2 separate regions of the Homo sapiens genome follow, and region 2 is linked to region 1. Evidence: fine-mapped expression QTL. A gene starts in region 1. The other region holds a variant in brackets. All regions are shown on one strand. Distances are between the middles of the regions.

Region 1 (4,512 bases):
CGTAGTCCCAGCTACTCGGGAGGCTGAGGCAGGAGAATCTCTTGAACCCGGGAGGTGGAGGTTGCAGTGATAGGAGATCGCACCATTACACTCCAGCCTGGGTGACAGAGCAAGACTATGTCTCAAGAAAAAAAAATAATAATAATGAACATTTATTGAGCACTTAGAATGTATTTCTGATATATCAGCTCATTTAATCTTCACAACTACTATGAGGTTTATCATTGCCTCTATTTTACAGATATGGAAACTCAAGTAACTTGCCCCAAGTCATAGCGGACCCTGCAATCAAATGCAGCCAATTGGGTTCCATAACCTATGCCCTTAACAATCCCACACTGCCTTTTCAACTATACCATTACAACAAAATGTGGAAAGCGGTGACATAAAATAAAAACAGGGTGCTATGCGGGGAAAAAACATGAACAGCGTACTCAGTCTAGAAGAGCAAAAAAGACTTCCCCCGAGGATGTCATTTGAGCTTAACCCTGAGTGAAGAATAAGGTGGACAAAACAAGAGAGTTGCGGTGGAAACTCCAGGATTAGGAAAAGCCTGTAGAGGGCCCAAAGAAAAAAAAAAAAAAAAAAAAGCAGCTGCTGGAGCAAGAAAGTGAGTGCATGGAGGGGACTGGCAGGCGAAGCTGGAGAGATAGGCAAAGGCCAGTGAGGAATGGTCTTGGCAAGTCAGAGAATTCAAGCGTTATCCCAAAGGCAATGGGCACCACTACAGAGTAATAAGTCGGGGAGTGACATAATCAAATTTGCACTTTTGAAAAACAACTTTTGGGCCGGGCGCGGTGGCTCACTCCTGTAATCCTAGCGCTTTGGGAGGCCGAGGCGGGCGGGTCACGAGATCAGGAGTTCGAGGCCAGTCTGGCCAACATAGTAAAACCCCGTCTCTACTAAAAATACAAAAAATTAACCGGGCGTGGTGCCGGGCACCTGTAATCCCAGCTACTCCGGAGGTTGAGGCAAGAGAATCACTTGAACCTGAGAGGCGAAGGGTTGCACTGAGCCGCGAACGCGCCATTGCACTCCAGCCTGGGCGACAAAAGGAGACTCCGTCTCAAAAAAAAAAAAAAAAAAAAAAAAAAAGACAACTTTGGTTGTTGGAGGAAAAATTAATTCAATCTTGAAGGGTTTTGTCTTTGCTTGTGTGTTTTTAAACATCAGGTCCTAGAACAAGACTGGGGAAGGGCAAATGATAGTGGCCTGGCTCAGGGTGGAGATGGGAGAGAGGAGTTTAGAAGGGAGGCCAGGCAGAGACGCATATTTGGGAGGAGGCCGCAACAACCATCAGGGCACAATGAAATAGAGCAGGGAAAGCGCGTTGCCTGAGCACAGGGGAAGGTCCAGGAGTCATGGAGGCAACCTTCGGTGACTGCCGCTCTTCTCAGCCCTTCACAAGTGCAATATCGCCGGGAAGGAGGCAACTTTCTACACCACCTGCGGGCAGGGAGAGGCGGGTGGTGGACAAGAAACACCCACCAGAAGATAGTCCCGAACTTCATGTTTCTCCAGAGCTCCGTGAAGTCCTCGAAGCGTACACTGTCCGTCTCCTGGAAGCGGCTGAGCAGCGCCTCGCAGTCGGTCTGCAGGCCGGGAGGAGTCCCCATGGCACCCGAAGCCCGCACGCCTCCGAAGCCCGCACGCCTCTAACGGACTAGCCAGCGGTGGTCGCCCAGGAAACCAAGCCCGAACGGCCCGCCCCCTACGGCGTGCGCACACGCGCTCCGTGATGCATTATCCGGCACCTTTAGCTCCGCCTTTATCCGGGCTCTTGCCACCGGTCGTGTGCTTACTGCGCGTGCGTGAAAGCGTTCTGATGTTTTACTGGCTGAGATTGCTTTCACCCAGAGTGCTGAGATCCACCCTTCTTTGGAAGAGGTTTACGTCTAAAGTGTTGTGTTTGCTCACGAGCGGTTTTAGGTCTTCATTTTCCGCTAGGTTATGTAACTTGACTTTACCCTTACTAGCACTCTCCTTTAAACTGACCCTAGTGTGACATAAGTGAACTTTTGAGCTAGGAAAGAACAGTCCCAACCCCAACCCCACTCCCACTTGGGAAGAGAAGCTAAAGAAGGCTTGCTAGGAAACAAACTGCACTCATTCTCCTTCTGGTCATCGAGAACCCTAATACTCTGTACCCACATAATACGATGCTTAATGTGCGGCCCTCTCTTTGTAGCCCTGGCATTCTGCAACCACTCTTGAAAAGAAGAGCTGCATTTCATACCCTCTTGTAAACAGCCCTCCTCCTGCCCTGCCACGCATTCACCCCTGTGCTACATAGCACTTAGCAGAAAATACCTACTTGTTATATTCTTGTTATATTATTATTTGGATGAATTGCCTTTTTGTGTACACGCTGCCACCTAGCTTCCTTCCTCCAGGAGCTAGCTATGGAGTAACATTTTGAACTTTAGATCATTTCTCTGATTGAAAGGTAAGCTATCATTCTTTAGAAGAGGTATCCTGATATAATAGAAAAACATTGGGCTTTCTGTGTGTAAATGGAGTGTCAACTCACTTTACTTTTCTGATCCTTGACCTGTTTTTGTTTGTTTGTTTGTTTGTTTGGATTTGTTTGTTTTTTGTTTTGAGACGGAGTTTCGCTCTTGTTGCCCAGGCCGGAGTTCAGTGGCGCGGTCTCGGTTCACTGCAACTTCCGCCTCCCGAGTTCAAGCGATTCTCCTGCCTCAGCCTCCCGAGTAGCTGGGATTACAGGCATGCACCACTCCAACCGGATTTTGTTTTGTTTTGTTTTGTTTGTATTTTTAGTAGAGACAGGGTTTCACCATGTTGGCCAGGCTGGTCTCGAACTGCTAACCTCAGGTGATCCGCTCCCCTCGGCCTCCCAAAGTGTTGGGATTACAGACGTGAGCCACTGCACCCTGCCCTCTTGACCTGTTTTTTAAATGTTATGTAATATTTTATGTCACAGAAAAATTTATGCGATGTGTGAGATAAAAAGCATAGCAGTTAAACACCTGTACACCTTTCACCTGTGTAGGAACCAGAACATTACCAACGCCTTCACATCAATCTGCGATTTCCTCCTCTGACCTATTCCTTTGACTGTACCCTACTTTAATCACAGCTACTGGTTGGGCACGGTGGCTCACGCCTGAAATCCCAACACTTTGGGAGACAAAAGCAAGAGGATTGCTTAAGCACAAGAGTTGGAGACCAGCCTGGGAAACATGGTGAAAATTAGCCGGGCATGGTGGTGCACACCTGTAGTCCCAGCTACTCGGGAGGCTGAGGTGGGAGGATCATTTGAGCCTGGGAGATGGTGGTTACAGGAGACAGAGGTTGCAGTGGTGAGCCGAGATCGTGCCACTGCACTCCATCCTGGGCTACGGAGTGAGACCGAATCTCAAAAAATAAATAAATAACTACCTTGAATTTTGTTTCTCTTTCTCATGTATATATTTTATCACATATGTATGTATATTTAAACGGTATATTTTTTAGTTGTGGTTGGTTTTGAGTTTTATGAAAATGGTATTGCAACTGGCTGGGCGCAGTGGCTCACGCCTGTAATCCCAGCAATTTGGGAGGCTGAGGTGGGTGGATCACCAGGTCAAGAGTTCGAGACCAGCGTGACCAAAATAGTGAAACCCCGTCTCTAATAAAAACACAAAAATTAGCTAGGCGTAGTGGCGTGTGCCTGTAATCCCAGCTACTTGGGAGGCTGGGGCAGGAGAACCACTTGAACCTGGGAGGCAGAGGTTGCAGTGAGCCAAAATGCATTATTTCCCCCATGATAGAGTGGGGGAACCATTTGGGAAATGGTTCATTACAACAGATAATTTGAGAAGCACTGTTATACACCATTTCAGTCCACATTCCATTGGCCAGAACTCAGTCACATGGACCCATTCAGGTGCAAAGGTGGCTGAGAAACGTCATCACTAATTAGGCAACCTCTCCCCAACAATAGTTTCAATCGCTGGAAGAGGTGCACACGTCTTTGTTGGACCACGTATTAGCTCATTTCTGCTGCTATAACAAAATACCATAGAATAGGTAGCTTACAAACAACAGAAATTTATTTCTCACAGTTCTGGGAGGCTGGGAAATCTAAGATCAAGGTGCTGGCAGATTCCGTGCCTGGTGAGGGCTGCTCTCTGCTTTCAAGATGGCACCTTGTTGCCGTGTCCTCACATGGCATAATAGCGGAAGGACAAAAGAGGCCTAGCTAGTTCCCTCCAGCCCTTTTATAAAATCACTAATCCCATTCATGAGTCCTCATGACTTAATTACCTGCTAAGGCCCTACCTCTTAATGCTATCACATTGTTAATTAAGTTTCAACACATTGATTTTGGGAGACATTCAGACCAGAACAGACTGCCAACATGTCTGCTGCAATTTTATTCAGAAACTCTGAAAGTATTACCTTTCACTTTTAATTTACTGTCATCCATCTAAAAATTTATTTCTATGTATGGTATAAGGATCCTATTTCACTTTTTTCCATATGTATAACCATATGTATGTATATGTA
Region 2 (4,000 bases), 26 kb before region 1:
TCCCCCTCTGCCTACCAATTGAAGTGTAAACTTCTTGATTCCACATTTAAGGCCTGGTCACAATACAATCCTCAACATATTTTTCCAGCACTTTTAACATTTAACTCCCCAACATATCCCCTTTACAATCCAGCCTAAATGGACCCCTCACTCTATACTTCCCAGCTACTTTGCCTTTTTCACACCAGCCCCTCTACTTGTCTGAGTCTATGAAATTATGTTTACCTTATTTGTAAAAAGGTCTTTGGATTTCTACTGATTACTAAAGTAACACTTGGTTATACAAAATCCAAACGTTACAGACATTTATGGGTAGTTTCTCATTATACTATCCTTGAAAATTAACCACTGGTAATACTTCATACACATCTAGATTTCTTCAGTGCTATATATTATGTTCATGTGTGTATGTATGTATATTTTTTTATTAATAGAAACGAGATCATACTTTTTTAAAAAGCCTTTTCACTATGAAATGTATAGATAATGTTGTGTTTTATTTTTAGTCGATATATTTTGGATATACTTTCATAATACAGAGCTTTCCCTAGCCTTTTTTTTTTTTTTTTGAGATGGAGTCTTGCTCTGTCACCCAGGCTGAAGAGCGGTGGCGCTATCTTGGCTCACTGCAACCTCCGTCTCCTGGGTTCAAGTGATTCTCCTGCCTCAGACTCCCAAGTAGCTGGGACTACAGGCACCCGCCACCACACCCAGCTAATTTTTGTATTTTCAGTAGAGGTGGGGTTTCACCATATTGGCCAGGCTGGTTTTGAACTCCTGACCTTGTGATCTGCCTGCCTCGGCCTCCCAAAGTGCTGGGACTACAGGCGTCAGCCACCGTGCCCAGCCTCCCTAGCTTTTTAGTAACTGCAAAGTATTCCTTTGTATGGACTGACAATAATTTTATTTACCCATTATACATTTGAGTTGTTTACAGTTTGCCATTTCAAATAATCCTGCAATGAATTTCCTTTTATATTTATGATTTGTACAGAATAAATTCCTAGCAATTCTAAAAAGCATGTACATTTAAAATTTTGACCTGATTCTAAATTGCTCTATGAAAAGAATGTGCCAATTTACTCTCCCACTTAAACTGAGATTTTATTTCCTCACACTTTCATTATCAATGGGTATTATCTTTAATCTTTATCAAATAATATAAAAATCATGTTTTAATTTATATATCTTTAATTATAAATGAAATTCAATTATTTCCTATATGCACTGACTGTCTGCCTGCATTTGTTATTGCCTGTTCATGTCCTAAGCTATTTTTCTACTGGGTGGTGGCCCTTTTCTTATTCATTTATAAAAGCTCTTTTACAATTAGAAATTTTAATAGTATCATATGTGCAAATGGATTTGTAAGATCTTTTGCCTTTTATGGAACTGAAGGCTCCTCTGTTTGAAAAACTGTAAAATCAAAAACACCTTTCCACTGTATGGAAATGAACGTTTGATTAATGAGAAACTACAAAGTAAGCATTTGGGTCTTTATTATTCAGGTAACTACTTCTGCTTCAGAGTATTTACAATACCTTAGCTGGATTAGTTAAGCCATGATGGAGATCTGAATTCAGATCACATTTTATAATACTTTATTCTTTCTCATGGGTAAATCCTCCCTAACACCCTGAGAAAATTCATTAACAAATCTCAGATGTACTATAGAGCCTGTCCTTCAGTTAGTTTCAGAATTTACAAAACAGTTGTTTTCAGCAACTAATTA[T/AGATAT]GATTGGTGATCATAAATTATAACTGTCACACATTCAAGATGAAAGTTAATTTCATTTAACTTCTTTCTTTTCCTATTTTGTTCTTGTTCCTCCTTTGTTCCCCAACCACATTAAAAAATTTTTTTTTCAGGTCTTCAAGAAAGCAGCTTGGCCAGCTCATCACGTTGCTGTGCCTATATGAAGGCAATTAATAAAAAGTGCTTGTGAGGGTTTCTAAACCTAACTATCTTTGGTACTTATGTTAAAGTGAACTAAATATGGCCTGAGAAGGACTCCGTACTTCTATATTTGAGTCCTTGTGGACCAACTGCAATCTAGCTTAATAGGTAGACAAGACTGAAAACCAAATTTAGGAGTATGTGCCTTAACAATAGCTGAGACTTGGCCAATCCCAGCGGCAGTACTTCAACCATTCATACACTGCTGAGTCTTCAAACTGTGTTCAAATAAGGCAAATGCCGAGCTGTAACCAATCCAGCTGTTCTGTACCTCACTTCCGATTTCTGTACCTCATTTCCTTTTTATTGGCTATACATCTTCCACCACGTGGCTGCACTGGAGTCTCTGAATCTGCCGTGATTCTAGGGGCTGTGCGATACTGGAAATGTTCACTGCTCAATTAAACTCCTTTAAATTTAATTCAGCTGAACATTTTCTTTAAAAAAAAAAAACATTTTAATCTACCAGAAGTTAATTTTTGAAATATAATCAAACTAAACAATCTTTTCCTTATGTCCTCTCTTTTTGTTCGTGTTTGGCCATCAGTCAGGTTTATTGAAGTATTATTAACATACAATAAAATTCACCCATTTTTGCTATACAGAGAAGTTTGGACAAATGCACGGCTGTGCAATCTACCACTGCAACGAAAATATAGATTTCCATCACCCCAAAAGTTTCTCTGTGCCACTGGGCATTTAATACCTTCCCCTACCCCTAAGTCCGTAGCAACCAAATATATGTTTTCTGTCCCTACAGATTTGCCTCTTCCAGAATGTCATATAAATAGAATCACAGAGTATATAGCCTTTTGTGTCTGTCTTCTTTCACAGAGCACACTGAATTCAGATTCATCTATGTTGTTAGATGTATGATAGCTCTTTTATTGCTGGGTTGTATTTCATTGCATGGATATGCCACAGTTTATCCAATCAGCAGTGGAAGGATTTTTAGGCTGTTTGCAGTTCTTGCAATTATGAATAAAGCCACATAAACTTTTGCATACACATTTCTGTGTGAACATTAAGTGTTCATTTCTCTTGAGTAAATACCAAGGAATAGTATTTCTGGGTCGGATGGTAAGTACACGTTTACCTTTTAAAAACTACAGGTTTTCTAAAGTAACCACATCATTCTGGATTCACACCAGAAAAGTATGCAGGTTCCACTTGTTCCAAATCCTCAACAGCTTTTTTCATCACAATTTTTGTTTTGCTTTGTGGGGTCTTTTTGTTGTTGCCATTCAGGGTTTAGTGGAGTGTCACTGTGGTTTTAATTTACATTTCTCTAGTAACTAAAGATGCAGAGCATCTTTTCATATGATTATTTGCCATCCATATCTTTTCTTTGGTGAAATGTTTTAGCCATTTCTTCATTGGGTGGGCTGTATATTTATTGAGTTAGACTTCTTTAAATATTACTATTTTGGATACAAGACCTTTATCAGCGTAGTAGTTTGCAAAAATTTTCTCCCAGTCTGTGGCTTATCTTCTCATCTTCTTAACAGTGTCTTTTGAAGACAAAAATTGTAACTTTGAGAATGCCAATTTATCAGTTTTTTTTTGTTTCATGATTTGCTCGTGTTATTGTGTCATGTATTTAAAAATCTTGCCCAACCCAAGAACACAAACATTTTTCTCCTACATATTTTTTCACAAGTTTTATAATTTAGGTTTCAAATTTAGGTCCATAATCCATTTTGAATTTTTTTTTGGATAAGATAAGGGATATTGGTCTTTAGTTCTTTCTTGCAATGTCAGTAAGCTGCAAAGTGTTCCCTCTTGCATTTTCTGAAAGAATCTAGATCACTCCTTTCTTAAATGTTTGCTAAAATTTCCAGAGAAGCCTGGGAATTTAATTTCTTTAGCAGTGTGAGAGGAAAATAAATCTTCGGACCCCAAAATCACTAAGCTAAAGGGAAAAGTCAAGCTGGAACTGCTTAGGGCAAACCAGCCTCCCATTCTATTCAAAGTGATCCCTCTGAGGCTCACCTAAGACAAATGCATATCTGATTGCTTCCTCTCCCCTATTGCTTATGTGAAAATGCA

Evidence for each region.
Region 2: its variant is fine-mapped to the expression of SNAPC1 in whole blood (INTERVAL, PIP 0.96).

What each region holds. Positions count from the first base shown.
Region 1 is chr14:61,759,565-61,764,076 of GRCh38, reverse strand. It overlaps SNAPC1 (small nuclear RNA activating complex polypeptide 1), which reads right to left and starts at 1,657. Exons shown (of 10, transcript NM_003082.4): 1 at 1,489-1,657. The coding sequence starts at 1,616. RefSeq lists enhancers at 687-1,430, 1,431-2,174, 2,242-2,331, 2,175-2,918, 2,919-3,663.
Region 2 is chr14:61,785,800-61,789,799 of GRCh38, reverse strand. All of the region lies in intron 8 of SNAPC1 (small nuclear RNA activating complex polypeptide 1), which reads right to left. Among named protein-coding and RNA genes, the nearest start is that of SYT16, 25 kb to the left of the region's middle. The variant T/AGATAT (reference allele first, on the strand shown) is at 1,733.